Linked DNA regions of Homo sapiens: region 2 is linked to region 1. The links come from fine-mapping of genetic effects on gene expression. A gene starts in region 1. The other region holds a variant in brackets. All regions are shown on one strand. Distances are between the middles of the regions. Region 1 holds the start of CAPN10 (calpain 10). Region 2 holds the start of ANKMY1 (ankyrin repeat and MYND domain containing 1).

Region 1 (15,691 bases):
CCGCCCCGGGGCAAGGGCCCCAGCAGCCCTATGGTGACCGCCACACTGTGCCTTAATGTCTGCCGGGGGCCCAGGCTGTGCTGTCCCTGCAGCACGCCTCCTTGCAGGGATCTGAGCCACCCTCCCCGCACAGCCCTGCACCCCGCCCCTGGGGTTGGCAGCCTCAGTTGGCCCCTGGCAGAGGAACAAGGACACAGACATTCCCTCAGTGTGGGGGGCAGGGGACACAGGGAGAGGATGGTTGTCCCTGGGGAGGGCCCTCTGGCCCCAGGCAACCTTAGCCCCTCAGAACAGGGAGTCCCAGGACCCAGGGAGAGTGTGGGGACAGGACAGCCTGTCTCTTGTAGCTTCCTGGGGTGGGAGGCACAGGGGCAAAGCAATACCCCAGGGAAAGTGGGAGGTGGTGCTGGTGCTCTCTCCAGGCCCACCATGCTGGGAGAGGCGGCCAGAGCCTGGGGCCTCCAGCCTGGGACTGCTGTGATGGGGTATCACGGTGATGGTCCCATTAAACTTCCACTCTGCAAACCTGATCTCCTGCGCTCTTTCTCGCGACTCTTGTCCTCTGCATCTTCCTGGCTGTGTAGGGTGGGCTGGCCTGCCGGGACTTGGGGCCTGGAGCTGGTCAGGAGCTGGGTGTGGCCCCCTCCTCTGATACATAAGCCCGAGAGCAGGCTCCCCGAATCCTGCCCAGCCCCTTGGCTGGACCCCCTGGGCCTGAGTAGCCTCTGGATGTCACAGGAAAGCCATGTGTCACCTTCACTCTGGGCCTTCACCTGTGGCTTAAGCCAAATCCCGGCCTCAGTGGTGATCCTTTCCCAAGATGGGTACAAGGTGACAGGCATGTTTTGTTTTGGAGAACTGAGATTTCCATTTTCCCAGGCGATAGGTGTCGCTGCCCTTCACAGTCCCCAAGGATGTGGCGCCACCATCTCAGTGCCACGCACACCTGGCCAACATGCCGTGGCCCAGAAGCAGCACGTCTCTTCTCCCAACCCGCTGGCCAGGCCCAGTCACAGCCCCACTCCACACATGGCAGCCAGGAAGTGGGGAGGGCAGGAGGTGCTGGGCAAATAACCCTGATACCATCACTGTCCAGTCCCCAGTCACCAAATGTCCCACTCACCCTCCTTCCTGTTCTGGATGCCCCGCCCCTCCCCTCCCCTCCCAAGGACATATGAGTCCCCTCCAGTGGCGGTGGCAACTCTGGTCTAGGGTCTGGGGCCGTCTCTACATGTGTTGCTTCATGTACCTTCTTCACATCAGGTCTGGGGGAGGCGCCACCCCATCCAGAGACCTAGGAACTAGAAGACTGCCACTGCCCCTCACACCCAGGGATAGGATGACTGCAGTAACCCCTGTGAAAGCGGGTATGGAGGGCACCTGGCAGCCCCTGCTGCATGGCCATCTAAAGTCTTGCCAGGCAGGCACAGCTAGGGCCCCTGCCTGGGAGTGGACACCCCACTCCCCCAAGTCATGTTCTCTGTGGCCTGGGGCTCCAGCCTTGGGAGGACCCCTTTCCTGTTTCTTAACCATGCTTGATGGTGTCCTCAAAGGAGCCCTGCTCAGTGGCAGAACTGCTTTCTCAGCCTCTTCCCCGCCAAGGTTGTTTTCAAGTCCCAGCAGTCACAGACTTTCATCCTGGGCTCTTCTTTCTTTTGCAATTCAGCTCTCGAAATGACTCTGTGGTCTGCGGGTGACTCCACTCCACGTGCCTACAGCCACGCCCACAGCGCCACCTCCGGACGCTGCTGAGCTGCGCACCTGTGCCTGACACCTGGCTTTGGGAAACTCAGCAGCAGTGCCCAGCGTCATGACCCTGGGGGCAGGAGGGCATCTGGATCCAGGATGGCACCCTCACCACAATCTGTCTTGGCTCTGTGCCCGCCCGTGGGGTACACAGGAGGGCTCTTTCAGCCCTAAGTCCTTGTGTTCCTGACCTTTGTTCCTCTTCCACCCAGCTTGCAAGTGCAGAATTTTTTTTTAGCTCGTCGCTTCCCTGCAGTCCCTTGTCCAATGCAGCCTCCGGCCGATACTCAGGCCAGTGTTGTTTCCCAACCTCTCCACTAGATACGCACACTTAGCTCACGGTCTGCCTCATGAGTCATCCCAGTTGAGCTTTACCAAATGTTTTGCCCCACCTAACAGCCTGCCCACATTCCAAATCCTGGCAGGTCGCACGTTTTATTAGCACAGCACCCCTCTCCTAGCGGCCAGCTTCTCTATTAGGCCACGTTATGCTCCAGCCACACAACTATGAAGCGCAGACGTCTCACACAACAAAGCTTTCTCATGCTGCAGGCCCACCTCAGGCTGGCAGGGGAAGGGGGGATTCTCTTCAATGTGACCACTCTCGGACCCGTACCGATGAACAGAGATCTCAAATGTTTCCAGGCACCTTGCCAGGGATAAGAGAGCTGTTGAGGGGCTCACACTGGCAGTGGAAGTTCTAAGGGGCCTACAACCACAGGGGCTGCAACCCCACCATATGCACAAAAGCGGGGGCAGATGGCAAACAGCACTAATGACAACGACGGAGCTGAGGCCAGAATGTGAGAGAGATCTGCATTTTGGGGATTAGGGCCTAGTCAGGCAGGTAGGAGATGATGTTCAAAAAGGGAAAAGAAGCGTGATGAAAGACTGGTTTCTACAGAGATAGATTAGAAAGCTGAAGCCTGAAAAAACAGTGAAGGAGACCCATGCAAATTTCTAGGCCCTGGAGGTCCAAATAAGGTTTTCTAAGTCCCTCAGGCCATGACAGGTTCAGTCCAGACTTGTCTCCCAGAGTGTTTCTCTGCCATCCCTACTCTAACTGGGACTTATTGGTGGTGTTTCTCTCCTAAGGCCAGATGCTTTGCACAGAACATTAGGAAACTCCAGATGTAAAGGTAAGGCACAACTGAGAATCACCTGCCCAGGGCAGCAACACAGTGTGAAGGAAAACAGGCCACTCAACCCAAACTTACACCTGAGACAGAGGCAACAGAAAAATCAGAAAAGGACTTTAGAACACATATAATCAAAATCTCAGACCTAAAGACGACTTTTGAAATAAACCATAACATATGAAGAGGCACTTATGAAACAAGAACAGGTAGTTTATAAAAAAGAACCAGTCAGAGACCCTGGAAATTTTTTAAAAAGCAATTACTAAAATAAAAAATGAAAACTCAGTCAACAGTGCTCTGGTTTGGATGTTCCCTCCAAAATTCATGTTGAAATTTAATTGCCATTGTGATGGTATTAAGAGGTGGAACCATTAAGAAGCGATTAGGCCATGAGGGTTCTGCCTTGATGAATGCATTAATGTCATTATCAGAGTGGGTTCGTTATCATGAGCATGTGTTGTAAAAATGAATTTAGCTGTCTCTTGCTGTGTGTCCTCTTGCTCTTCCATCTTCCCCCATGGAATGGTGTGGCAAGAAGGCCTTTACCAGATGCCAGCCCCTCGCCCTTGGACTTCCCAGCCTCCAGAACTATAAGAAATACATTTATTTTCATTATAAATTACCCAGTCCGTGGTATTGTTATAGGAACAGAAAATGCACTTGGGGATATTAGGTCGTGGAGAGTAAAAAAAAAAAAAAAATAAGTTCCAGTCAATCAAGGCATCCTCATTCTCAACATTGCCTGCATTCTACCCTCCAGGGGTCCCCTCCATGGCCCTTCATCTGCCCCCACCCCGCAACTCAGCCTCATTTCTTCAGCCATTTTCTCCCCCACATCTCTCTTCCCTTCCCATCAGACCTTCACATCCTGCAAGCTAAGCCACCTCAACTAGCCATGCCCTCAGGGCTCTTACTCAAGCACCCACCAAGATGTTTTTCCTAACAAAGACTGTCCTTTTACTAAGAGGAATCTGATGTCAGCTGTTAGTCTCCGCTCCCCCCCACCCCCCATCTCTCGGAATAATCACCTGGTCAGAGAGAAGCCCAAGAGCACGGACATGCCAGCTAAAGGTGGAGCTTGGCAAGGGTGTCCACAGAGTGGCCAGGCCCAGCACAGATCCGAGGGGCTTTTAACAGGCACAGGCAGAGTGCTAAGGAGATCACTACCACCCACCCACCCATCCAGCCAGGCCCAGATAAACCTCTCCTTGTTCCAAATGAATGAGCAAACAGAAAAATTCCAGTGTGGAGGGAATACAACACCCACAATGCAGAAAATAGCCCACATCCAAAATATGCTCCCCTCAGATAACTAGTCAACTGTGCAAACTATCTGCATAATCCTCACAATAAAGTTGAAGAACACAAAACCACTTCATACAAAGAGTTAGGAAAAAAATTCCTATAAGGAGGAGCATGTACCATATTTATTCCCACTCTGTTTACTAAGCATGTATTATAATGAGAAAAAAAGCTCAATCTAAAATATTGCCAACAAAGAATCCATTCCTCACGTTGCAGTAAATGAAGCGGGCTGAGGTCAGCCTCCTTTTATGCTGGCTGCCCCAACTCTAAGGAGTTGATGCGTCCTACTGTTAACAGCGGAGGATGTCCAGGTTCTTGGCGTCTTAAATAAAGAATTGGACAAAACACACACAGAGAGCAAAGAAGGAATGAAGGGATTTATTGAAAATGAAAGTACACTCCACAGTGTGGGGGTGAGCCTGAGCATAGGAGCACAAAAGCCCTGTTACAGAACTTCAGAGAGTTTAAATACCCTCTAGGTGATTCCATTGGTTACTTGGGGCACACGTTATGTAGATGGAGAGCCTGTTACAGAACTTCTGAGAGTTTAAACACCCTCTAGGTGATTCCATTGGTTACTTGGGGCACACGTTATGCAGATGGAGAGGATGAAGTTACAAAGTCATTTGCTTGGCCTATGTCCTATGGAGAAGGTATTTCCTATCATAACTGAAGTGTGAATCAGCCTATGTTCCCTGCACTCAGACCCTATTTTCCTGCCTCCTACCTACAGCTGTGTGGTCCTGAGCTGTCACCTCTTCCCTTTGAAGCTCAGGTTCCTCATCGGTAAAATGAGGCAGAAATACTCACTGCTGAGATGTGTGGGGATCGCACAAACTCAGTGTCTCAACATGTTGTACGTGTGTTTTGGCCCTCTGAGCCCTTGAGGGCTGCCCCAGGTGGAACCCTCTTCACTTTTCTTGGAGAACTGACCATGGGTTGCAGCAAAGCCTAAAATGGTTCCTGTTTCAGCCCTGCCTGGGAAGATTCAGCTGGAACCTTTAGGCTAGGAAAAGGTTCGAGAAGGACCCTACCCCCACTGTGCCCGACCTGAGACAAATCCACAGAAAAGCAATCCTTGCTAACTCTGGGCAGTATGTGGACAAGATACTAATTTTTAATCTCTGCATCTCCATGAGAATGCAAGGACCAGCACAGTGAAGTGCCCAATGATTGCCCCCTGAACAAACGGAGATGTCAAGTTCAGAAAAAATCCTGGCTGAGGAAGACAGGGAACATTCCCTTGAAAAACAAGGGCAGTCATCCAGACAGAGCAAGAGGAGTGGCAGGATAAGAGGAGGCAGACAGGGTTGATTCCACAGGGCTCCTCCTCAACACCCATGAACCTGAGAAGTGGTCAGATGCGTTTCAGGCCACTGGCCAGCAGTGGGGTCATGGCGGGAACTAGTCCCACCTGAAGGACTCTCATCTCCCTACAATCCCCAAACGCTGAGGCATGGGGATGCTCTTCCCTCCTTGAAGTGAGGGCCCCGAGGCTCTCATACTTTAATTACAGTACTTCAGACCAAGAGCCTGCAGTTGAGGAGGCCAGGGTCATGAATCAGCTGCCCCCCAAACTCCTTATCTCACCAACCCAAGCTGCTTACAACCCCTCCAGATATCCCAGGAGCCGGGGGGAATGTCATTCTTCAGGGCTGAGGGAACATCTTTGCACCCTGGGGTAGCAGATGGGACCACAGGGCATGTGGAATGTCTTAGTCTGTTTCACACTGCTATACCTGAGGTTGGGTTTGTTTTATTTATTTATTTATTTATTTAGAGACGGAGTCTCGCTCTGTCGCCCAGGCTGGAGTGCAGTGGTGCGATCTGGGCTCACTGCAAGCTCCGCCTCCCGGGTTCACACCATTCTCCTGCCTCAATCAGCCTCCCGAGTGAGGGGCTGGGACTACAGGTGCCCGCCACCACACCTGGCTAATTTTTTTGTTTCTTTTTTTTTTTCAGTAGAGATGGGGTTTCACCGTGTTAGCCAAGATGGTCTCGATCTGACCTCGTGATCCGCCCGCCTCGGCCTCCCAAAGTGCTGGGATTACAGGCGTGAGCCACTGCGCCCAGCCAAGGTGGGGGAATTTATTTTTTTAAAAAAGCAAAACAGGTTTATTTGGCTCAAAATTCTGGTGGAAATTTCAAGATTGGGCAGCTGCACCTGGTGAGGGCCTCATGCTACTTCAACTCAAGGCAGCAAGTAGAAGGGGAGAGGCATGCACAAAGAGATTACGTGGCCATATGGCGAGAGAGGAAGCAAGAGACAACCGCAGGAAGGCTGACTCTCTAACCAGCTCTCATGGGAACTCACCCCTCCACAAAGGACACTAACCTATCCATGAGGGATCCACCCCTATTACCCAAACTCCTCCTACTAGGCACCACCTCCTAACACTGCCTCATTGAGGCTCAAATTTCAATACCATTTTGGGCAGGGGCAGACCACATGCAAATCACAGCATGGGGTAATAGTGGGGGCAGGTTGACACAGGGCTGCTGCCTACCCAGCACCAGCTGTCTCTTGGCCCCTTCCAGATCCTGGCAATCTGGCTACAGGCATGGGCCCAGCCTTGGACACAGATGTGGCCACAGGAAGCTGTTAGCTCTCCAGATCTGATCAGCCTGGGAGAGCGGCACAACAAAGGCTCCCAAAGGAGAGTCGGGATCCTCAGCTAGCCTCAGCTCTGCTACCCACCCATATGTGCCCAGAACAGGAAAGATACGTGTTTCTTACTCCTCCGGGACTCCTAGGTGAAGCTGAGACCAGGCTCTTCTTGAGTCCTCTCAGCTATGGTGCAACCACCAGCCTAGCAAGGAATCAGAAACATCTTCCGGAAGAGTCAGCACCATAGAGGGTGCTGAATGGGCAATGAAGCATCCCGGAGATGAAACATCTGGGCAGTGAGGCATCCCACAGGTGTTGGGCTATGCAGTCACTCCCTTTCTCAGACCGAGGCAAGTACATAAGCACTCTGGGCCCCTAATCAGGGGCCTGGGGCCAGGTGGGATGAAAACAGCAGTGTCCTGCCACCTGAACAACTGCTACTCACGCAGGCCCCACCTGGCCTCTCAGAGGGAGGAACCTGGGACTCCTGAACCAGATTCAGTTTCTCCTTCAACAGCCGGGACTTTTCGCTCCTGACTGCAGAAAAACAGCTTCAATGTGACCATCCTTGATAGTCCGAGGCTGAGTAAAATGGCCTGAGGAGGCAAAATCTGAAAAGCTCTATTAGGTGGCAAACTGCTGTCACTAGAAGAGTTGAGGCCCCCTTCTCCTCCCCTGCCTGACCGCCTTCATTCCTGGGAATGGAACAGGTTCTTGGGGCAAGGGTGAATCCTCGAGCAGGTCCCAGGATCACTATCCTCACCTCCCCGCGGCACTGAATGGCTATAGCTGTAAATGTGCGTCCACGGGGTCACTGTCCAGCCACCAGGACCAGGTGCCTGGCCATCTGGGGAATCGGAAAACGCTCAGCGGGATGCTCTGGCCACCTCCCCTGCCCCCAGTTAAGATGTAGAGCGTTCAACCTAAAATGCCTAGAAACAAAGCCCAGGCCCGGGAAGGTCGAACGAGTGCGACGCCGCTCCCTCAAGCTCTTCCCTCGGAGCCGTCTCATTTCCCAAAACTCCCAAACACATCACAGAGAGAGGTGTTGAGCCAGGTGGTCACTCCCTTTTCCAGAACCACAGCAAGAAGTTGAGCCTGCTGGGCTCCTAACGAAGGCCCTGGGGCCCGGTGGGATGAAAAGCCCTATTAGGTAGCAAACAGCTGTCACTAGAGGGGTTGAGGCCCCCTTCTCCCCTGCCTGACGACGACGGCGGCAGGAACTCGACCGGCGCCGGACAGCTCGCAACTTGCCTTACCAAGCGTAAATCTCGGTTCCTCCCAACTACCCGCGGCCACGGCCTCCGCAGCAGAGCGCCGGAAGCAGAGACGCGTTTCGGGAGGAAGGTGCATGCTGGGAGCGGCGGCGCATGCTGGGAGCTGTAGTCTGCGACGCAACTCGGCCGAGGTGGCTCCCTGGTCCCTGAAGCTCCCAGAGCCCGCGTGTTCAGGCGGTCCCGACACCCCGGCCCGAGCCTCACCGGCTGGAGGACTGAACGCCTGCCGGCCCTCCGGGTATGAGCGGAGGCCGGGATAGCCCTGGGCTCCGCCGCCCCCGGAAGGAAAAAATACAGTGCGGTCCGCCGCCCGACCACGAAAGAGCGGAGCTCGGGAGCCCCGCCCCCTGGGCCTCCGACGTCCGTGGCGCTTTCCGTCGCGCGAGTGCGATTGGGCCGCCTGTCACGTGACCCGAGACCCCACGCCCGGTTGGCTGCCGCCTGGTTACCAATGGGAGACTAGCGGGCCGGCGTACTGGCCTGGTCCAGCACCTGCGGGGCCCTCGGGCTTGGAGGGCTGGGCCGGGCGGGGAACGGGCGGGGCGGGCCGGAGGCGGCGGCGGCTGACTCGCCTTCTCTCCGGGGCTGCGACCCCGAGGCAACCGGCTGCAGATGGGAGCCCGCGGAGCCGAGGATGCGGGCGGGCCGGGGCGCGACGCCGGCGAGGGAGCTGTTCCGGGACGCCGCCTTCCCCGCCGCGGACTCCTCGCTCTTCTGCGACTTGTCTACGCCGCTGGCCCAGTTCCGCGAGGACATCACGTGGAGGCGGCCCCAGGTGGGGCCGTGTGGGGTGCGGTGGGCGCCGTTTCTGGTTTCTGAGATCTCCGCTCCTCGCAGGGAGCGGGGCGGGGTGGGCGGCCAGGGTAGCTCCGAACGCAGGGTCCGCCGTTGTTCTCCTCAGAAGTGGGCGCCCGGCCCCCTCTTTTCGTACCTCCTTCATACCCCCGCCCAGAACGAGCAGGACTCGGCGCTACCCTAAGGACGCTAAACTAGGTCGTGGCCTCCGCCTGCGAGAGCTCCAATCCAGGAGGCTCAGAGCGCTGCGAGAGGCGTTTTAACAGAGCCCCAAACCCCGCCCCACCTGTTTGCTTTCGCCCTGAAGAGCGTTTGTGTCTGCTCCTCCCGCAGAGAGGGCCGCTCGTGCCCCTCTGAAGTGGCTAGGCCGAGCCCACAAAGCAAAGCGTGATAGAATTTCAGTTTTGGATTTTGTGCACCTGCCTTTCCAGTTGTAACACCTAGAAATGGCACCTCCAAGGGATGCCCTGGCCGAGTGCTGTGTTCATATTTTTAGAAATGGTTTATCTGCTGAATAAGACTGCCCAGGGAGCAACCTTGCCCTAAGTGGATGCGGTCTTAGCGGAGACAACTGATGGCCGCCAGTCTTCGAACAGAGCTGGAACTTCTGGGCTCTCGTGACTGAGATGGCTTTGACAGGCCACCTGGTTTCCTTGGACAACACTGAAGGGCCTGGGAGGAGGCAAGGGTCAGACCATGTAGAGCCTTGTCATTGGAATTTGGGTTTTATTTTGTTAAAAGATTGATTTTAGGTGCAGCTGGAGGCCACTAGAGGGTTTTGGTAGAGGAGTGGTTCTCTTGGATGTGTGTTTTTACAAGCTCACTCTTGCTGCTGGGTGGGAAGTGGGTTGTCGGGGCAAGAATGCAAGGGTCCATTGTAGTGGTCCTGGAGAAAGATGAAGGGGCTCAGATTAGCTTGACGACTGTTAGGATGTGGGTTTGGAGTAGATTGGTTTGAGACGTACCTTGCAGGGGGGATCGAGAGGCCATAGTGACTGATTGAAATAGAGGGTGAGGATAGTGGAGGGATCAACATGCCTTCTGGGTTTCTGGCCTGAACAGGTGGGTGGATGGTGGTCCTGGGACAGAGCCTGGGGGTGACCTAGAGTTGGGCTTTGCTCTCACGTCTTCAGGTGGAGCTGTCCTGGAGGCAGGTGGATCTGTCCTGGAGGCAGGTGGATACGGAGCAGGGATAGGCTAGAGGCATTCTTCTGGGAGGCGGAGCATATTAGATGGTTTACAGTCCACAGCCTGGGAGAGTGTCTCGGGGGAGTATCAGTAAAGAAGAAGGGGGCCTTGGGGCTGAGCCTTGAGGAACCCTAACATTTCTTGGGGTCAGGCAGGTGCCCTGACAGATAGACTTGAGAAGCAGCAGGCAGTGAGGGAGAGGACACCCGGGGAGCATGCGGCCTCACAGAAGCTGAGTGGGGACCACCTCAGGGGCAGCAGATGGCTGTTCTGCTGTTGTGAATGCTGCTGAGTAGTTGGGGAAGAGAGTTGGGACCAAGAGAAGCCCAGTGGGTTTGATAACATAGAGGTGACAGCGACATTGATCGAGGCAGTTTAGGGGCCATGATTGGCTCAGAAGCTAGAGGAGCCTGTGTGGAGAGTGAATGGGAAGCAGGTAGTGGGCATGGCAGCTCTTTCAAGAGCTGTAATGAAGAGAAGCCTGAAGGAGACTATGGTGCTGAGAGATAATGTCTTAAAGAACATGGGGGTGGGATTCTGCCCGGGGAGCTGGAAGGGAAGGAGTTGTGAGAGGAGCCCAGGCTCTGAGGGCAGGAGAGAGGGTCAGGTCCAGAAGCAGGAGGCAAGGTCGAAGCTCAGAGGGGTGGGCAAGGGCAGTGTGGATGTTTTGAGTAGACGGGGAGAAAGGGGAAGGTATATGATAGTTAGGGGGTGTGGGAAATGGAGCCTGCTAGAGAAACAGATTTCCAGCAGGATGGAGGACACATTTGAGATTTACCAGCATGAGTAAAAAGTGAAACTTTTCGAAGCCAACATTTAGCTGTTTTGAGAAGGAGCTTGCTAGAGTTTGGGATTTTTCCAGTAAGGAAGGAAGGCACCCCAGAATTAAGCTGGACAGAGGCATTTGAAGCCAGGAGCTGAAGGACACCCGCTGCAGGAAACCACCTTCCTGTCCCTTTTTGGGTAACACTGATGATCGGAAAAGCTCCACCCCAACTCCTGTCATCTAGAGCCTTGGGTTCTTAGTTTGAAGGGTTCCACAGCAGGCATGATCTAACTCTGGACAACTTTCTGTATCTCAGGAGATTTGTGCCACACCCCGGCTGTTTCCAGATGACCCACGGGAAGGGCAGGTGAAGCAGGGGCTGCTGGGGGATTGCTGGTTCCTGTGTGCCTGCGCCGCGCTGCAGAAGAGCAGGCACCTCCTGGACCAGGTGCGGGGCCCCTTCCCTGTGTTTGTCCTGGAGCCGGTTTCTTTTTGCGTTTCTCCAGCCTGCTGAGTACCAGGAGGCCTTGCGAAAGCAGAGCTGTGCCGCAGCCGGATCTCCTGCTGTGTTGGGGGAAGGCAGGAGAGTTCCAAGGCAGAGGCTGAGGACTGCACTCTGTCCCTCTGCTGCAGGGGGGGGTGCCTTGGCCTCGCCAGAAGGCTCCATCAGGGAGGTTCGCCCTGCTCTGTGCTCTCCTGACCCCCGGACTCCATGGAGTCAGATCACCACGTTTAGAATAAAGAGACAAATGTGCCAGCTCACAGGAGGACGGGGCTGGCTGGCAGCCTCTGCCTCAGATCTCTCCTCAGCTAGCTCGCTGGTTTTCTTACAGGTTTTGAATATAAGTTTGCAAAAAGTTATTAAACCTGTTTCTGTGGGTAGACAGATACTCTGGGAGGAGAAGGCCTTCTCAGGTTTTCCTTACCTGGGAGTGTTCACCGTTTTATGCTTGGCTTGTTGCTAAGTGTTGCTGATTAATGCAGCGGCGTCAACAGTGTGACCTCATTCAGAGTTTCACTCATGTCCCAGGCCCCATGGTAAGCGTGTCACAGTCACTGGCTTTCAGACACATGGTCTTACCAGCTTTGACTTTTTTTTTAAACGAGAGTGCTAAAATCACTGCCATTGTGTTTCTGGCCGTAAAGTGGCAGAGCCAGGACCGCACCAGGTGCCTGGTGCCCAGCCTGCACTCCCCCGATGCTGGGTCAGAATGCTTACCCCTGAAGGAGCCCTGCGGTGGACGCTGTGGGTGCAAGCAGCTGGCCCAGTGTCGGGGCGCCAGGCTCCCAGCAGCAGGAGGGGCTGCTGTTCCTGTGGTGACGTGTTGCTTGCAGCCAGCTCGGTCAAGAACTGGGTCACTCATGCCCTTGAATGTCACATTTGTTTTGGCTTCAGGTCAGATGCTTTTAGTGAGGGCAGCAGAGTGTGTCCCGGGATATGTGGCTCCCTCGGTGTGGTCCTCAAGTTTTGCAATGAGAGGTCTGTTAATTTCATGTGGGTGATGCAGCCCTGTGCAGGCGCCGACATCCAGGTGTGCCGAAGAGTTCTCTGCGACATCCAGGTGTGCCGTAGAGTTCTCTGCGACATCCAGGTGTGCCGTAGAGTTCTCTGCGACATCCAGGTGTGCCGTAGAGTTCTCTGCGACATCCAGGTGTGCGTTAGAGTTCTCTGCAGACCGCGGTGCCTGTGGAGCACTCAGCTGTGGCCACACCGCGGCCGGGACACTGGAGTAGCGCCGGGTGGTGCTTATATCACGCTCGCCTTTTGCTTCTCCCTGTGCATGGCAGGTCATTCCTCCGGGACAGCCGAGCTGGGCCGACCAGGAGTACCGGGGCTCCTTCACCTGTCGCATTTGGCAGTTTGGACGCTGGGTGGAGGTGACCACAGATGACCGCCTGCCGTGCCTTGCAGGGAGACTCTGTTTCTCCCGCTGCCAGAGGGAGGATGTGTTCTGGCTCCCCTTACTGGAAAAGGTCTACGCCAAGTGCGTGTGCTGGGGGCTGAAGGGCCTGGCCTGGGGCAAGTGGGAGCTGCCACTACCATGGGCTGCCCCAGGAGGGTCTCTGCTCACTCTGGGCTGCAGAGCCCCCTTCAGTTCTGAGGGTCTGGCAGCTCATTCTGTGAGTCAGGCTGACAGGCCAGGTGCAGAGATTCTTCTTTTGGGCCTGTGGATTGCCCACTCCCTGCTTTCCCTTCCCTTGTTCCAAAGCCCAGCGTGGAGTCGTTCTCCACAGAGAACATGTGTGCCGTCCTCCTTATTTTATCGGCCCCAGCAAGAAAGATGCTTCTTTATATTTGTTGTGGAGTGGTTGGGACAGGCAGACTCATTGTGTAGTCGTTGGGGAGGAATGAGGCTACCCCAGCATACCAACACTTGTGTATCACGGTGCTTGCTGGCTCAGGGGACCAGGACCCTCACCATGAGTCATAATTGAATAGCCTTCCCTCTTAGAATGCATTTGTCTTCTTGCCAAAGGCAACTGGACTGACAGGCAGGCAGGGAAGCTGGTGAACATGGGAAGGCTGGCTGGTGACATCAGTGCCCAGTGAGCCCTTCCATCCCAAGGGCTGTTTTAGGAAAAGCAGGGTTGGAGCTTGAGAGCCAAGGGATGTGGGCATCCATAGCTTCCACGCCTCCTGCCCTGCTCCTGTGCCCACACCGGATGCCAGAGAGTTTCTGTGTGTGGGCAGAGGACTGCAGGGCGCTCACGCTTGCTGTGAAGTAAGGCGTTTGAAGGTGAGGCTAAGCCTTGACTTGGTGAGGATGAGGAAGAAGGCAGAGGGGAGTAAAGAGGTGGGATTGAGGCAGCGGTTGGACGATTTGGGGTGCTACAGACCATGGGAATCAGAGAGGGGGCCATGCTCAATGCCAGAGGCTCACTCCCATGGTGATTGTGTCCCCTAGGGTCCATGGGTCCTACGAGCACCTGTGGGCCGGGCAGGTGGCGGATGCCCTGGTGGACCTGACCGGCGGCCTGGCAGAAAGATGGAACCTGAAGGGCGTAGCAGGAAGCGGAGGCCAGCAGGACAGGCCAGGCCGCTGGGAGCACAGGACTTGTCGGCAGCTGCTCCACCTGAAGGACCAGTGTCTGATCAGCTGCTGCGTGCTCAGCCCCAGAGCAGGTGAGGCACGTGGCCAGCATGGGAGGGCTGCAGCCAGCGTGCCCCCCACTGCCAGGCCTCAGGCACACTGTAGCTTTTTATGTGACTGGCTACACAGCCCTGTCAGGACTAAGTGGGAAGAAGTAAGCTTGTTCTCAAGGGTGGTGTCCTCAGTTTGTGACCTTCCCCTACTGTCCTCTTCCAGAGGGACGTGGCCCTTCTCTCCCCTGACCAGTCCTTTCCACTAGTGCGAGGCAGGAAGAGGTGGCACCGAGTCAAAGCCCACTGTCTGTGCCATCCCTGGCCCAGCTGGCAACCTGGCAAAATCAAAACCTGTTTTTTATTTTAGTGATAGATAACATTCGTTAAAAACAGTTTGTCTCCAAAAAATGAAAGGGGCCAGGTGTGGTGGCTCACACCTGTAATCCCAGAACTTTGGGAGGCTGAGGTGGGAGTATCGCTGGAGCCCAGGAGTTCAAGAGACCCGCCTGGGCAACATGGCAAGATCTCATCTCTACAAAAAATGAAGGAAAAAAATCACTTAGATGGAACCACATGTGACTTTTGAGTGCGCTCTCAGTTTTCCATGAGCACGCACGGTTTACGTGTTCCCTTCCGCACCGCTTCTCACACTGCCACACACGCGCTGTCAAATGTTCGCCCCATGAGCGGGTTTGCCACAGTCTCTTAATCATTCCCCTGATGTTGGATATTAAGATCTCTCTGGTTTTATATAATTATAAGCAGTATCAATGAACATCTTTATCATTTTTTTCATACTTAGGATTATTTTAAAAATATGGGTTAAAGAATATGAATATCACAGTAAACTGAAACAAGTTGTCATAGGCCTTGGTCTGGGTCCCCCATAAGCAGACCCTGAGATGAGGTTCAGGAGCACGTTGAGAGGTTCAGAGAGCCTGGAGGGCGTGTACTCCCCGCCAGCCCCGCTGGGGTGCCAGGAAGGACGCTGGCCTCAGAGCCTCCCACCTGGGAGTGAGGGCGCTGGTCTGGTGGGCATTAGCTCGGGGAGCTGTTGGTTTTGGGTGCTCCAGGGTGGGGTAGCGCTAAGTCCTAGCACTTCAGGCTTTAGAGGAAGCCCCCAGGCAGAGAGAGATGGCAGCTGGCACTGACTGGAGGTGCATTGGAGCCTGCTGAGGTGGCAAGGGGCCGCGGCGTGGGCGAGACTGAAGTCCTTCCAGGAGACCCTCCTCTCTAGACCGTTGCCCCGCCACAGATGTGGCCTTCCTCTCTGTTTGGCTCTTTCTTTTCTATGCCCATCTGTCTCAAGGTCTCTGGCCAGGTGGAGCTGTTGCCCCCCTGGGCCTCCATGCCTCCAGTGGGCTTCTAGCCAGGGCACTATCTGAATGTCCTACCTCTAGCAGGCTTTGCCAAGAGAAACACTCTCTAGATTTCTGGCAGTTGCAGATGCATCTGTGCAGCATGTTTGAGAACTGGTGCTGTGCCAGGCATCGTGCACAGATGGGTACGGACGATGACTGAGGCCTAGAGAAGGGGATGACTTACCCAGCACCAGACCCGGATGGCAGCCGAGTCAGGCCCCGTGTGCTTGCTCCTGGAGATGCTCCTGAGCTGATGGGTCACAGCTGCTAAGAAAGGAGCTCTCGTGGTCCATGGGGATCTGGGGTCTCCCGTGTAGCCATAGTGGGGTGGGCTGGAGCATCTCCAGAGGAGGAGGCAGAGGCCTGTGTGTCCTTGTCAGTTTGGGACTCCATGGTGCCCTTCCTGCCTGTGCCTGCGCCA
Region 2 (15,691 bases), 27 kb before region 1:
TGATCTTTCTCAAAAAAAGTGACTTGTAATCAGCTACCGTCCAGGGCTTGCTTCTTTGGGGGAGTTCCTGAAAAGGACTATTGAATTCAGGTGTCTGATAACTTTGGCGATTGTGCCACTGGATGAGAGAGAAAACTTCCACTGCACTAATTGGAAGGCTGATGTGTTCATAAACATTGCTCACCCAATATGACACAGGGCAGGAGCTGACTGCATGGACTCAGCTAACAGAACACTGGAATGCTTTTTATGTTTTTTTTTTTTTTGAAATATTGCTGATTCTTCTTTTGTCTTTCAGAGTCAGGATAATTTTTTTCTTTTGAGCTATTCATAACCTTGAAATATACTTTAAGTGTACTGAGTAGAGTATACATTTGTAAACAAAATTTGAGTCATATTTCTCTCTGCCTAATTTCTCCAGAATTTTTAAACTATTTGTGAATATTCTTAATTCATGGCAACGTGTTTGTTTGCATATGTTTAATAAGAATCTGTTTTATTTTATAATGGGACACAGCTGGGGGAACTGGTTATTTTCCCAAGGCTTTAACTGAAATGGCCTTGCGAGAGGTTCCGGCAAAGCCAGTTTAGGACAGCCTATGCGAACCACAGTTCTTGCTGTGCTTTGTGTGGGTGATCAGGGCACCAGGAAACTGAAGCTTATTTTGCAAGTAGGTTGTCCTACTGTTATTTGTCTTTGATGCAAGTGGGGGAATGGAAAGAGATTGTCTTTTAGAAGAAAACTCTATTTAGATTAACCTTTGATTCCTAAGTGACCACATGGTCACCCATGGTATGGAGCTGCCCACAACGCCCCTCCTCAGCATGGAGCAGCCAGAAAGACCCACAACCTGATTCCCCATGGTTGAGGAACTGATAAACAAAAAGGGGGGACTGAAACCAGCCCAGTAATCCTACAGAGAGTTGTTTCCAGATAAACATAGAAATTGACCCTTCTGGTCTTAAAGCTTGAAACTTAAATTTGTTTTATCTGAGTTTCTTCCTCAGGAAAGACCTTCAGGCCTCTCAAAAAGTATCAAAGAGCTGAAACTCCTCTCAGAAAGTATCAAAGAACTGAAACTCACCAGACCATGGCATTCAATGTGACTCCAGGCCCTTTGTTCACCGTGACTGCTTCCTCACCCCTCCCAAGTTCCTGCTTTCTCACACATTATTACATTTCTTCCTTGATATATAAACCCCTAGTTTTAGTCAGGGGGATGGATTTGAGATTAAGCTCCCATCTCTTCAGCTGCACCTCCAAATTACAGCCTTCTTCCTTGGCAATACTCATTGTCTCAGTGATGGGCTTTCTGTGCAGGAAGCGGAAAGATCTAGAGCGAACCCCTGGTGTTTCAGTAACAGCCACTCATATTGGCTCAGAATAAACCTCTTTAAAATATTTTGCAGAGTTTGTTTTTTTTCTGTTGACACCATTAATATGGCATTCTCACAAGGGCAAAATTCTAGGCCAAAATAGATCAGCCACAGTTTGTTGAAGGAGACATTTATTACAAAGGCCATGGCAATATTTTGAGGGTGATGGAACTGTTTGTATATCCTGACTACAGTAGTAGTTACACAACCCTGTAATTGTCAAAAATTTCAGAACTATATATTAAAATGGGTGAATTTTACTGTAAATTATACTGTAATAAAAGGGGGAAAGGCATCTGTATTTGAAAGACTAGGCATGTTCTCCATTTAAAAAGGCACATTTCAAACATTATGTGTACAGTGATCCAGTTTACATATTTAAAAATAAACACGTGCGTTTCTTAAATCTAAAGGACATGTAACAATTTGCTGGTATCCCTCTGGGGAATAAAATGCAAGGAGGCTTTTATTTTCAGTCTATATCCTTATTATTGGTACCATTTTAATCATTAAAAGTAAAAAAGCTACTTGTAGCTAAACAAATAAACTTCCCCAGGACCGAAATATCTTTTTGTCCAGTGGCTTAGACACACACAGCCACTTCGACCCCAGCTGAACACATGGCAGCCCCCTCACCTGGAAAAGCCGTGTCTTCATGTACATGGTGCCGTAGCCTTCTCGGTGGCTGAGGTAAAATGTGCCCGTGAAACTGGAGCCATCTGGCCACATGTAGGTACCCAGGCCATGGCAGTGGTCCCGGTAAAACTGCCCATGGTATGACTGTGAGATGGAGAAGTTGGTGAGAAATTGCTGCTCTTCCAGAACCTGACGGGATGCCCTTGAGGCTGAGCCACCATGCCTGGTTGGCAATGAATGGGGACCACCCAGGGCTGTGGCAGAACTCAGGGATGCCTGGCATGCGACTATTAGAGTCGGCAACTGAAGCACCCAGAGGGGTTACCAGGCAGTCAGCCTGATAGCCAGGCTCCCTCTCTGTCTTCTCCTCAGGTGGGGGACTGTGGGGAGGCTTAAAACTACCTAGACATCCTGAGTCAGGAGAGCACGGACATGCCTTCTCCCTGGTGACCTTGATCTTAGGTTTGGAGGGTCCTGTCCCCACTCAGGAGCCCCATGCTGCTGAGCTCCCTGCCAGGTTCACAGGTGACAGGCTGGCCCTGGAAGGCTGGCTGTAGGCCCCAGTAGGCACAGGGGAGGACTCTGATTTATAACTCTTCAGCACTGGTTGGACACGTGAGCTCCACAAACAACAGGAGTGAGTGTATCAGAGCCTGCCCCTTTACCAAGGCCCCCAGAGGGAAAAAGAATGTGACATTTGGCCGGGTGTGGTGGCTCACATCTGTAATTCCAGCACTTTGGGAGGCCGAGGCAGGCGGATCATCTAAGGTCAGGAGTTCAAGACCAGCCTGACCAACATGGTGAAACCCTGTCTCTACTAAAAATACAAAAATTAGCTGGGCGTGGTGGTGCATGCCTGTAATCCCAGCTACTCAGGAGGCTGAGGCAGGAGAATCACTAGAACCCTGGAGGCAGAGGTTGCAGTGAGCCGAGATTGTGCCATTTGCACTCCAGCCTGGGCAACAAGAGTGAAATTCCATCTCGAAAAAAAAAAAGAATGTGACATTCATGACAAGGGCTTCCAGCCAGGAGACCTCATGCTGAGTGCCAAGCACCACCTTTTTCTCAGAAACAGGGTGGGCCTGGAGTGCCCGCACAGCCATCCATGCTCACAGTCCACCCAGACCTGACCCCGACGTGAAGGGCATGGCAGTTTTCACAGCTTAGTGTCCCTTCCCTTTCTTCTGACAACAGATGCCCTCTCCCTACAGAGAGGATTCCCCAAGGGACCCAGCCCCAGTGCCTGGGCCAGGCCTGGCCAACCAGAGGACGCCTTACCCCTGCCCCATCTTGATGCACTTCATGCATCCCCAAGTCAGACCAGCGTCCTGCTGGGGCCTTTCTCTTTCCCAGGGGTGTTTGATGCCACCCCCAGGGGCTGGGCAGATGGAACAAGGTCAGTCTTAGAACCCCCTCGTGGAGATGGAAAGAGAGAGGACCTAGTTACATCATTAGAATCCTGGATCCAGCCAGGCCTGAGGCTACCTTACCCCTGGACTTTCCATGGCAAGCGCCAACAGAGGCCTTTTCAGTTTCAGCTGCATTGAATGTGGGCTCAGGACCTAGCCTGGGGGTGCAAAACTTGTTCTCATTTTGTCTTTTAGAACATTCGCTGCCTTCTGCTTAAGCCTAGACACAGGCAATTTCACCAAGGTAAATATACGAGTTGCTATGGCAATTCATAATTTTAAAACGTCTGCCCAGAATAAGAACTTATCTTCTTAAGTCACAGCTTCCCAAACCTCATCCTGGGACCCCAGCAAACCATGGGTGTGATTTTGGAAGTTGGGAAAGATGCTTTTCTCTGGACATTTCTCAAGGAGGAAAAACTTTAGCCTAGCACCCTTCCTGTTGATGGGCCTAAAAGTTCCCGTCCCATCACTCTTGGAAGGATAAAGGCCAGCCACCAGAGGCCCTAGGGGAGGAGGCGGAGAAAGTGTGGAAGCAGTTACCTCGCCTGTGGGCCAAGAGAATTTGCCATATCCAAGCTTCATGTTCAACCCAAACTCCCCCTGGTACATGCAACCATCCTGCCACTCCTGCACACCCTGGACGAGCTGGATGTAGGACTCCCTCAGGTCCTGCGCCCTCAGCGGGCCCTCAGCTTCCTCCTCTTCCTTCTCAGGGGCTGCTGAAACATCCCTAAAAGGACAGGAGCAGAAGGAGGGAAGAGTGAAGTGGCTGCAGTGCCTTCAGTGACTGCTGAGCACAACCCCCGAGCACAACCCAGCATCTCATTTCATCCCACAGTCCCGGGGCAGGTGCCGCTGCATCCCCACTCCACTTGGAGAGAAAACCGAGGCACAGAGGGTGCAGCGATTGCCCAAGGCCACACAGGAAGTGGAATGCACAGTAAGGCTGCCAACGGATAGGAGAGATGCTGCCAGGCTCTAGAGGCAGGACCAGTCGGCCTGTCCAGCCCGGGCCTGCTGGCGGCATCTCCTGAGATCGATGGCCCTCTGTCCCACTCCAGCTGCCTGCAGGACGTGGGTGCCCACAGCAGGGTCCTCATTCAAGGGCCAGGAGTGCCAGCCCCAAGCTGGACAGAAAACAGACTGCCCACACATGTGGACCCATGGAAGGTCGGAAGGCAGCTCGAGAGGCAGCCAGCTCATACTAGGATGGACAGGTGGATAGGTGGACAGATGGATGGATGCAGGGCTGGGGAGTATGCTGCAACAGCGGGGAGCACAAACCAGGGTGGATTTGCCGTAACTCATAGGGCGTCCACAGACAGACAGGGCATGTCAGACCCCCCACAGATGGACAGGGCGTCTCAGACCACCACAGACGGATGGGGCGTCTTAGACCATCACAGACGGACGTGGCATCTCAGACCACAAAAGGCGTGGTGCCTCAGACCTCCACAGATGGATGGGGTGTCTCAGACCCCTACAGAAGGACAGGGCATCCCAGACCAACACAGGTGGATGGGGTGCCTCAGACCATGAAAGATGGACAGGGCATCTCAGTTCCCCCCCAGACGGACAGAGCATCTGAGACCCCCACAGATGGATGGGGCGTCTCAAAGGGCCTTCCGTTCTCAGCTGTGCAGGGCGGCCGTCCCTGGCCAAGGTGCCAGCAGCGTCCCTGCCTAGGGAGGGTCCTCTTCCTGGCCTGTGGAGCCGCCTTCTCATTGGCTCCCCACATGGTAGTGAGAGAGGATGGGGGAACTCTGGGCTCTTCTGCTTCTCATAGGTACACTCATCCCATCATGGGCTCCATCTTCACCACCCCATCTAAACCCAGCCACCTCCCAAAGCCCATTGTTGGGAAAAGGGCTTGTGGGAAAAGGGCTTGTGGGGTGCCTGCATAAACAGGCCATGAAAATATGGGACAATAAGTTGTGGAAAGCCACAAGAGGCCTCTGAGGAGGAAAGCCTCCTAATTGCCATCATGTTCCCATGCCCAGAGCGAGATCCGCTCTCTTATCTGTAAACACTGTGTTCAAGGAGAAAGACTCTCCTTTGAAGCCCTGGACTGTGGACAGACATGCAGGCTCCTAGCTAAGCCCGCTCCCACCAGTTACTCTCCGATAAGTTAAAAGATATGCTGTTTGAGCACAAAGGAGATTCACTGAAACCAATATTGCTATAGATTACACCTATGACACACTGCCACCCTTTCACTGTTTCGCCCTGAACATCTGCTTCTCAGATCTAAGTGTGCTCAATAAACAGTGTGGAGACCAGAACTCTGAGCCCTTTGCAGCCTCCATTTTGCAACTGGCCCCCTGGCTCCCCACCTTTCAATTCTTAACCTGTCTCTTCTCAATCCTTTGTCCCCACTAGACTTTGGGCACTCTACGGGTGGTGTTGAGGCTGGTCCCCAACACCCATCACACTGGGCCAGGGCTGGGACTGAGTTTTGGAGGCCCACAAACAGGGACAAGCACGATGGGGTGACAGGGGGACCTCGTGAGATGCTGCAGTGAGACTCCAGGGCAGCCCCTGGCTGTGAACAACAGAGCTGTGAAGATGGAGACAGCTTGGGAGCCCCATCTCGTGAGGGAAACGTTCCCTCCCTCCACTAGGCGGCGACACGGGTGGCAGAGTGTGCAGGCAGGAAGGGACATGAGAAGGTTCCAATTACCATCTATTGTCGTTTTCCTCAGTAGGTTGCTGACACAGTGTTGAGGCTTTCAGATTTCTCCAGAAACTAGTTTCTCAGGGAGTAACACAGTTCAGGGATTTTTACTGCTTGCCTTAAGGAGAATCCCGGCTAACCCTGGGCCCCAGGTCAGGGTCGGACCTCCCCGCTGGAGGGTCCCCCGCACCTTGTGGCGAAGACAGCGTAGTTCTTCAGGGACCCCGGCTCCTCGGCAGCAGGGGTCTCGCCGCCCTTCCCCTCTAGCGGGCGTTGGCGGCTGCCAGCCCCAGAGACTTCGTCCTCTAAGCTAAGGGAGGCATGGGCCCCTTCCATGTCTGTGGTCTTCCAACCTGCAAGCGACGTCAGGACCGCACATGTGCCCCCAGGGCTCCCGCCGCGAACTCAGAGGGCGCCCGAGGCCCGGCCCGCGGCCCCTGAGCCTCAGAGAACCCAAGCCCCTCCCTGAACCGCGCCGGAGCCTGGGCCGCCACCCACAGGTCCCGGACCACCATCCCTGGGAGTCCTCAGGGAGACCTGTCGGAACCATGGGTAAACTTCACCCGCGTCCCCAGGTGTCCCTGTCCCTTCGTGGGCGGGAATCACAGCAAGGGCGGTCGCGGCCACGTGGCCAGGCCAGGCCCGCACCCACTATCGCCCAGGAGGCGCCGCTAACAGCGGGTCTCAGCCACGGGCCTCTGAAGCCAGCGCTCGAGGGTGGGCTCGGGAGACGCCGCGCCCACCTAACCCCACGCCCCCAGCCCCTCGGCCCCTCCCTGGGGTGGGGACCGCGAGCCTGGCGCCCCCCCGCACCCGCCGCCCCACGGAGCTCCGGGATCCCCCTAGCCCCGGCTCCCAGCGCTCCTGTCGCGAGACCGCACCAAGCAAGACTCGAAGAGCTCGCGCCGGACAGCAGGGAGACCGACGGGACTGCAGCCACCGCGGACGCCCGCGCTCCCGTCCCGACTGCTTGCCAGCCCTGCGCCTACGGAGAGCGTCGCGTTTCCCTGGAGACAGCCCCGCCCCATGCCCGCTGCCACTCTCCGGCTCCGCCAATCCCCCCGCCAGGACGCACCCGGCCCCGCCTCCGGGCGTGCCCGCCCTCTGTGACTTCAGGGGCTTGGGGCCGACACCCCGCGGGCCTCGGTGCCAGCCTCCCGCTTACCCGGTCAGCCCCTGGGCCGAGTACCCCTGGGAGAGAAAGCGCTAAATTCCCCCAACACTCCCGTGATGGGGGCACAGGGAGCGCCGTGGGACACCTGAGGAAACTGAGGCCCAAGTGTTAATTAACTTGCCCTGATCACCTAGCACGTGGAGCCACGACTTGCTCAAGCCCTGCCTGATTCCAGCCCCGGCCTTTGTTCATTCAGTAAATGTGGAAGGCGCAAGGGTAACTCGAGGCCTGCGGAGGGAACGAGATGAGGGAGGCCGCAAGAGTCACCGCAGAGAAGAGGGATTGGCTGTCTTGGACCCTCCGAGGGCCTCGGGGAAGGACTGCAGGAGAGCGGATTCTTGATGGGGCTTCACAGGATGCGCAGGAGCTCTCCAGGCTACAGAGCGCATTTCAGGAACTGGACTGGGATGTACAGAGGCACCATGGTGGGAAACAGCTGGGCCTTCCTGCAAAGAGGGGAGAGGCTCTTGGAGGTGCAGGGCTTGCGTTTTCTCAACCCAGACTGCCTCTGAGAACAGGGCAGGGGGTGTGAAGAGCTGATGCCCTGGCCCTCCCCACTGGCTAGCTTTCCGGGGACTAAGGACTAAGGCTGGGCCAGGATTCTGGGGTTCTAGGGGCTCTGCCTCCACACGCCAGTGCCTGTCTGTTGAGTTCACTTCTCTCTAAAATCTCATTTTACACCACGACCCAGTACAAACCACTCAGAAAAATGTTTCATTAAAAGTTCGGCATACTACATGCATGCACTCTAATATTTTCATGTAGTCTATTATTTCTCTAAAAACTAAAATGCTGATCATGACCCACAGAATTGATTTCACAACCCACATTAGTTGTGAATTACAACTTGCTAAGGAGTCAGAACCAACATGTAGAAACCCTCTGTTCTTAGCAAGCACATTCTGGTTACACTGTGGGGGACTAGCACCAAGTCCAGGAGACAGAGGCTGGCCCAGACTAAGTGTGGCAATGAGATGCAGAGACACTTAGGATGAATTGGTTCCCAATCCATTACCTCAATGGAGTGGGAGCATGATGGTTCAAGTAGCAGGCTTTGGAGCAGAAAACCCACCTCAACCATCCTCCAACCGTAAAGGGTGATGATGATTCATGAAACAGTCCAGGAGGAGGAGGGACTTCAGGTTTTGTTTGATTCATTTCAGTGGCCCAACAGTGGCATCAAGGACCTTGGCTCTCCCATCTCCTCTGCTTTCACCCAAGGCTGGCTTCCCCTTATGGCCATGAGAGAACAGAGGAGCCTTCCAAAGTGCTCTCTCCTTCATGGGTTATTAGACACCAAGCTCATTCCCAGAGCAGTCACGGGAGTGTGGCCTTCACTTTTGGCCAGAGACAGAGCCAACTCCTAGAAAGCGGAGGGAGACAGTGTCCCAACCTAATCAATGGCTCC[C/A]ATGAACGCCAGGGAAAAAAAGGGAATTCCACTCCTCCATCCTAGGAAAGTTGGAGTCCTTCCTTAGGGTGGAGGAAGTGGGAAACAGATGCTGATAAGACCTCCACGGAGGTGATGTCTGGAGCTGCAACCAGGGAAGACCTGGCTGCAGACATATTTGAGTCTTTAGCTCAAGAGTGAACCCCAGGCTGCAATAAAGATCTGACAGTTACCAATGCTAGAAGGCTGATGGACAAAGCAATGACGATAACCCAGAGAGAGACTGTATGCAACTGAAACTTCAATTGCTAAATGTCTGTAGGGCTGTTGAGACAGTTGCTTTTCAGTGTATCCATTGCCTGAAAATTACCAGATGTCAGAAAAATTGAAGGAGTCTTAAATGGCAATTTCATGGACATTAAGTGATATTAAATTTTTTAAAGTTACAATGCTGACCCCAATAAATTACTTAGAAACAGCAAAAGGAATAGTGTGGTCTATGAAGAAGTGATGAAAATAGAAATTAGTTTTATTTTATGAGCCATGTGTTATAATACATAGAAAAAAATGCACCAATTACAAAGCGGGCCACAAAAAGGAATAAACGTAAAGCCGACAACGCAGTCACTAGGGAAAGGGTGAAGACACGGGAACCACGCAGCCCGCCGTCCACGTGCACCGGGTAGCCACGGGGCCCTAGCCGAACGACGCGGACGCGAAGTGGGCGGGCCCGGCCAAGCCACGCCTCCGCGCCAGACGCCGCAGTAGAGCGGGCAGGGCGCTGCGCCCAAGAGCCACAGACGCAAGCCCAGTGCCACAGGCCGCGGGGGCGGGGAGGACGGCGCCCGGGGACAGAGAACATGGGACGCAGAGCGGTCCAAGGCCCCGGCGCCCTGGTGAGGCCCAAACCTCCCGCCATGCCCCGGCCCCAACGAGACCCAAGCCCCCTGTCCCGGCCCAGCGCCCGCGGGGGACCCAAGCCCCAGCCTGGTCCACCTCGGAGGCCTCTAGGACCCGGGGGCGCCCGGCGGCCCGCCCGGCTCCCACAAATAGACTCCTGGGCGGGCGCCTGAGCCCCCAAAATAGATCCTCAGGGCCCAAAAGCAGACTCTTCGGCGGGCGCCATGGGACCGGCAGAAGCTGGGCGCCGCGGGGCCGCCTCGCCCGTACCTCCACCGTTGGTGCGCGTCGCGCCCTCACTCTTCCTCGGGAGCGCGCGAGCCGCGGGCGCGGAGGAGCAGCTGGCGCGCGCGGGAGTCACGCTGTGCGTCAACGTCTCCCGCCAGCAGCCCGGCCCGCGCGCGCCCGGCGTGGCAGAGCTGCGCGTGCCCGTGTTCGACGACCCGGCTGAGGACCTGCTGGCGCACCTGGAGCCCACGTGCGCCGCCATGGAGGCCGCGGTGCGCGCCGGCGGCGCCTGCCTAGTCTACTGCAAGAACGGCCGCAGCCGCTCGGCCGCCGTCTGCACCGCGTACCTCATGCGGCACCGCGGCCTCAGCCTGGCGAAGGCCTTCCAGGTGGGCGGGCCTTTAGGGGGGCGGTGTTTCGAGAGGGGCGTGTCTTCCGGGGACGAGTTTTCCGGGCGGGGCCGGCTTCGGGATTGGGACAGGCACTTCCGGGAGGGGCGGGTCTCTCTCGTGAGGGCGGGCTTAGGGAAGCAGAGAGGCACTTCCGGGTTGGGCGGGGCCCACTCTTACAGCTGGGCCCGCCTTGGCCCCTGCTGGCCATTAGCGCGACTTGGGGTTATTCAGTACACTTCTTGTTTGCAGATGGTGAAGAGCGCTCGCCCGGTAGCAGAACCGAACCCGGGCTTCTGGTCTCAGCTCCAGAAGTATGAGGAGGCCCTCCAGGCCCAGTCCTGCCTGCAGGGAGAGCCCCCAGCCTTAGGGTTGGGCCCTGAGGCTTGAAGCTTGAAGGCCTGCTGCCTGGAGGAAGGATGTCCCTGCACTGATACAGAAGGCTGGTCTTTACCCTTCTTCCTCACTGTCATATCGAGTTTTCCTTTGTGTGTGTGTGTGTGAAACATAGTGCTTTTAATTTTATATTTCCGGCTGAGGTGATGCACAAATTATCTTACAGACACAAAAAGAAATACATTTGGTAAAACATCGAAGACAAATTAAGAAAAAGCAAATAGGGATCCTCCATTATTTACACTCCAGAATCTTGAGTGTTTGGGGGTGCCGGCGCATTCTACCAGTCTCAGGGAAGGACATGAGTACAGACTACAGTAATCAGAATCTGAGTCATAGGTGAAATCAGGAAAAGCAACTCTTCTTGTGTTTATTTTTAGTAGTGTCATAAGAACGGACTAGTTCTTCCTGCGTGACCACGGATGCTTCTGTTTGAGAAAATGCATACCCACGTGGGACATTTAGATCAAGAAAGCTGTTGATGAAGACATTGTTGAAGGGCAACTTGGGTGATTGGGGAATTATTCTCTTCATCAGCCCCTCTGCAATACAGCTGGAGCTGTCCCATAGGAGTTCGGACAATTACGGACATCCTTTTTCTTTCTCTCTTTCTTTTTTTTTGTTTGTTTGTTTGAGACAGAGTCTCTGTTGCCCAGGCTGGAGTGCAGTGGCGCAATCCCGGCTCACTGCAACCTCCGCCTCCCTGGTTCAAGTGATTCTCCTGCCTCAGCCTCCTGAGTAGCTGGGACTACAGGTGTGTGACACCAGACCCGGCTAATTTTTTGTATTTTTAGTAGAGATGGGGGGTTTCACCATGTTAGCCAGGATGGTCTCAAACTCCTGACCTCGTGATCCACCCACCTCAGCCTCCCAAAGTGCTGGGATTACAGGCGTGAGCCACCGTGCCCAGCCTCCTTTTTCTATTACTAGAGAACTCCAGGACATTAAGAATTTCAAAAGTGATTTTTTCACCCATGGCTTCTACGGTGACAGAGTATGGTGTTCCTGTAGGGAAACAAAGCCAAGTTTTTTTGCTCCTTTCACTAAAGCTGCTTCATCCGGGGAGGAAGCCTGGTAGATTATAATATTTCCAGGGATAACAGTGTGGCACACAGATAACAGGGTAAGAAATTGGTCTATATAGTTTTCTGTGGGATGGCCATTCTCAATGTTCTCCAATAAACTGGGGTAATTAAAATATCAGGGCTCGGATGGAAGGTGTTGCACCATAAATGACACCTGCAGTGGTACTTGTTAAATGTCTTAACATTGCAAGTGAGGGTTCCCATTTTATCAGAAAATAGAAATTTTACCTGCCCAAGTTCTTCACTGAGATTGAATGTGCTGGCCATGGTGTGGACACTATTTACTTTATAATGCACATCTTGATCCCAGTTTATAAACTGGGCCTGAATATATTTCACAATTTCCATAGTGACCAGCAGACTAATGGGGATGAGGTACTGTTATAAGATGATGAACACCAGTATGTCAAACACAATGCTGTGAGCTGGAATCCTCTTTCAGGTACCAAATGTCACCATACTTTTTATTCCATAGCACGGCTCCCACGCAGCTCACTACAGACATGACCAGAGCAGCAGGAACCAAAGGGAGACCCGCCCATTGTCACTTTCTTAATCTCTGATCTCTTGAGGTGATTTGACAGAATTCTGCAGGAATTTGGTTTCAAAGCCAGTGTAAACAACTATGCCAGTGATCCACTGAGCATTTCTTTTTTTTTTTTCTTGAGACGGAGTCTCACTCTGGTGCCCAGGCTGGAGTGGGCGCCATCTTGGCTCACTGCAAGCTCCGCCTCCCGGCTTCATGCCATTCTCGTCCTTCAGCCTCCTGAGTGGCTGGGATTACAGGCGCCCGCCACCACGCCTAGCTAATTTCTTTGTATTTTTGGTAGAGACGGGGTTTCACTGTGTTAGCCAGGATGGTCTCAATCTCCTGACCTCATGATCCTCCCGCCTCGGCCTCCCAAAGCGCTGGGATTACAGGCGTGAGCCACCTCGCCCGGCCAATCCACTGAGCATTTCTAAGCTGTGTATCTCTTAACAAGACCCAGTCAGGCCCTATTGGAACAGGGCTTTTACCACCTAGGCGGAAGCTCAGCCATTGAAATGACGATCAGGTGCTTCACGGTCTATTTTTCCAGATAGGCCTAACAGCTGGTTTTCTGTTTGCATTTCAGCTGTTTCTGGCAAAGCCTGCCGTGTCTTACATTTGTCTCTCTATCCGGATTAGATGTTGCTATATGAACACATCGGGACTGTGTCTGCAGGAAGGAGCTCCCCATTCGAGGCCTTCACAGTGTCACCCACATTCACCTCTTTCCACTTAAACGTGTCCCATGAATCTTGTCATAACAGTTTTGTGTTCCTTAACTATTTTGTCTGCCATGTCATTTATGATGTATATAACCTCTTTAATGCCTGAAATCATAAGAATAATCATCAAAGGCAAGAGGGTTGTATATTTTCCCGTTGGAGACACATCTGGAATTTGCTGCAATAAAATAATAATAAGAAAGCATTGGCAGCTTTGGTAAACTGCAGATTCAAAAATCGAGGGAGAAATGAGCACACGCTGTACTTGGCTGTACATATAATTGCTGACTGTGGGTTGCAGAAATTTCTCTCAAGCATCATCACCACTTTTGCTCAGTTATCAGTAGTAATAACAGCAATCAAAACTGAAACTGCTCCAGATGCCTGTCTAGGAAGTATGGTTTTCCATCCTTCCTACTGCTTTCTTCACAAGAGAATCCTCCACCTCAGTGGCCCTGAAGTGGCCTGAAGGGCCCGCTCTGCGGTCCTGCCACCAGTGCCCTCTGAGGTCCATGGTCCCACGGCACCACGGCCGCCCAGTGCACTCGCCTCCACACTGAGTTTTCATTTTTCCCAGTTAAGCCCCATCTTCCGGAAATGCAGCTCCAGAGGGTCTCTGTCCCCTCTTGCTGGTGGGGCAAGGGTCTGCGCATCAGACCACATGGACCCCTGCACCACCATCTGCTCCGTCCTCTCCCTCTGGTCAGCTCAGCTTATTAAACAAGCCTTGGTCAGGAAAATCTAAACCACTTAAGGAACTGGGCAGAAAGAAACTGAATGCAGGGAGAAGAAGGCTGGGGAGCCAAGGACAGGAGAGGAGACATAGGGGAGTCACAGGGACCTGCCACCCAGATCCCCACTGCCTGATGTCCTGGCTGTGGAGGGCACCTGGAGCTGCCAGCAGAGCCTCCTGCCCACCAGCTGCTGAAGCCACAGTACATCTCCTTCCTCCCACCTCCCAGACCTCTCACTGGTCTCATCTGGGCACCGAACATGGGAAGCCCCTCCTGTGACAGGCAGGGGAGAAGGAGGCTGTGCTGACAGACGGCCTGGTGAGGGAACCCGGGAGGCCTCCAGCATCTGCACCCCTCTCCTACTTTGATCTCTGTTTCACCAACATTGCACCCCAACTTAAGGTCACATAGCTACTGTCAAGCCAACAAGGTGCTGCCTCTCCCGCCGTGTGAGGGTGGAACCCCATAAGCCACCACTGGAGGCATCCAAGCATGTTGATTCCTTCTCTAGTTCAGACACCACCTCTCCTGGACATCCTGTGGCCTAAAGACTATCCTAGAATCAACACTCCTTAAATAGGAGTGGGGAAAGAAAAGGAAAATGTGTGTAATACATGTGAATCACAGATAACGTAGTCATTGGTTAATATATACAACTACGCGTATTTACATTCTGTATGCGTCAATGAGTAAAATACTGTGGTTGGTGCTTATCTGCCTTTTCCAATACTCGTTCCATGTTCTACCCTCAGCCAGTGCCTAAGCTGCTTATGGCCTTCACCTGGTGGCATGACTCGATCCTTCATTTTTAAGGCCCCAGGCCCTGCATGGCTGCCCACACAGGTGCTGTGGCCTCCGTTACCTGTACTGCACCACCAGAGAGAAGTAGGAGGCACCACTCTTCCTGGCCCCCAAGCCTCACAAAGCCTCATGCCCACCTGCCAGAGCCAGCCCTGTGTTGTCTCATGCTTCCGTGGCTGGGCCGTGTCTGAGCCACCCTCCCAGTGAGACCCGATTGTGTTCCTAAGCAAAAGCATCCCACCTGGGGACCGAACATCTCTGATGCGGCAGAGCCCAAAGCTGGGGGGATGGGAAGCACGGGTTTTGTCAGCCAAGCGTGGGGGTGGTAGTGAGAAGGGCCTTCTCCCTCCCCACGCCTTGTGTACCTGGGCCTCAAGCATAGGCCACACCTTGTTGGTCGCTGCCCCTCTATGCCGTGTCACCAGCCGGCACCACCCATCGCTGTGGACCGCGGCCCCCATCACAAGCTGGTGCCCAGGGCAGTCCCCATCTCTGTGGAGGGCTTGCCTGCCGCTGGCCTCTCTAGATAAGCTCCTCATGACTCATGCAACCTTTTCATCAACCCGGAAGGAAGCAGCCGCCGGTCGCCACTAGTGGGTGAGGAACAGTGGCTTGGAGAGGAGGGAGGACCTGGGTCTGCGGTTTCCCCCGCGGCTCAGCCCTGCTCACAACACCCTGATGAAAACCTCGGCTGCCCTTGCCTCAGGGCAGGGCACACCCTTTACCTGCTGACCTGGCCCTGGTGACAAGGGGACAAGGGCAGCAGGGCCCCGGCCAGGTTGAAGGACACCTGTGGGTCACATCAGACCTTTTTAGCCCACCAGCTCCATCTGAGAACTGGTAGCTCCCTGGTCCTCTGTCGGGGTTGGGCGCGGCCCTGTCTGAACACTGCTTCTTCCTGGAAGCTTTGCTGCCCTCCCCAGCCTGCTAAAACGCTCCATGCCCACACCCACCTCCTAGTGGGTGAAGCCAGGAACCCCTCCCTCGGGTGCATCAGGGGAAGGCTGGGGTGCAGATGCCGCGCAGCCACTTCACTGCGCTGATCACCAAAAAGCTGGAGTATGAAAACTCCTGTGGGAGAAAGCCAGGGCTGACAGTCGCGACGTCCAGGCTCCTCTGCCAGGGTTAGAGAAGTCAGAGGTGTCTGCCCAGGCCTGCATGCGGCGTAGCCTCCCGCCGCCAGGGGGCGTCAGGCCGGCGGGGGCGGGGCCTCCTCGGGCGGGGCGGGGCGGGGCGGGGCCGGCGCG

The links. PIP is the estimated chance that this variant, and not a neighbour inherited with it, causes the effect.
Region 2: its variant is fine-mapped to the expression of CAPN10 in whole blood (TOPMed, PIP 0.97).

The regions. Positions count from the first base shown.
Region 1 is chr2:240,578,203-240,593,893 of GRCh38, forward strand. CAPN10 (calpain 10) reads left to right here and starts at 8,532. Exons shown (of 12, transcript NM_023083.4): 1 at 8,532-8,850; 2 at 11,141-11,272; 3 at 12,613-12,809; 4 at 13,731-13,948. The coding sequence starts at 8,710. It overlaps CAPN10-DT (CAPN10 divergent transcript), which reads right to left and starts at 8,114. Exons shown (of 1, transcript NR_103792.1): 1 at 4,548-8,114. It overlaps RNPEPL1 (arginyl aminopeptidase like 1), which reads left to right. Exons shown (of 11, transcript NM_018226.6): 11 at 1-3,170. RefSeq lists enhancers at 6,279-6,348, 6,719-7,088, 8,079-8,258, 8,310-8,604, 8,543-9,369 and 2 more and a silencer at 8,569-8,798.
Region 2 is chr2:240,550,901-240,566,591 of GRCh38, forward strand. It overlaps ANKMY1 (ankyrin repeat and MYND domain containing 1), which reads right to left and starts at 7,088. Exons shown (of 18, transcript NM_001282771.3): 1 at 6,981-7,088; 2 at 6,290-6,452; 3 at 3,966-4,155; 4 at 2,014-2,157. The coding sequence starts at 6,435. It overlaps DUSP28 (dual specificity phosphatase 28), which reads left to right and starts at 9,457. Exons shown (of 2, transcript NM_001370465.2): 1 at 9,457-10,177; 2 at 10,430-14,356. The coding sequence starts at 9,785. The coding sequence ends at 10,567. RefSeq lists silencers at 974-1,073, 7,028-7,247, 9,306-9,715, 9,896-9,945, 15,551-15,691 and enhancers at 4,282-4,782, 5,915-5,984, 10,042-10,183, 10,216-10,285, 10,316-10,675 and 2 more. The variant C/A (reference allele first, on the strand shown) is at 8,682.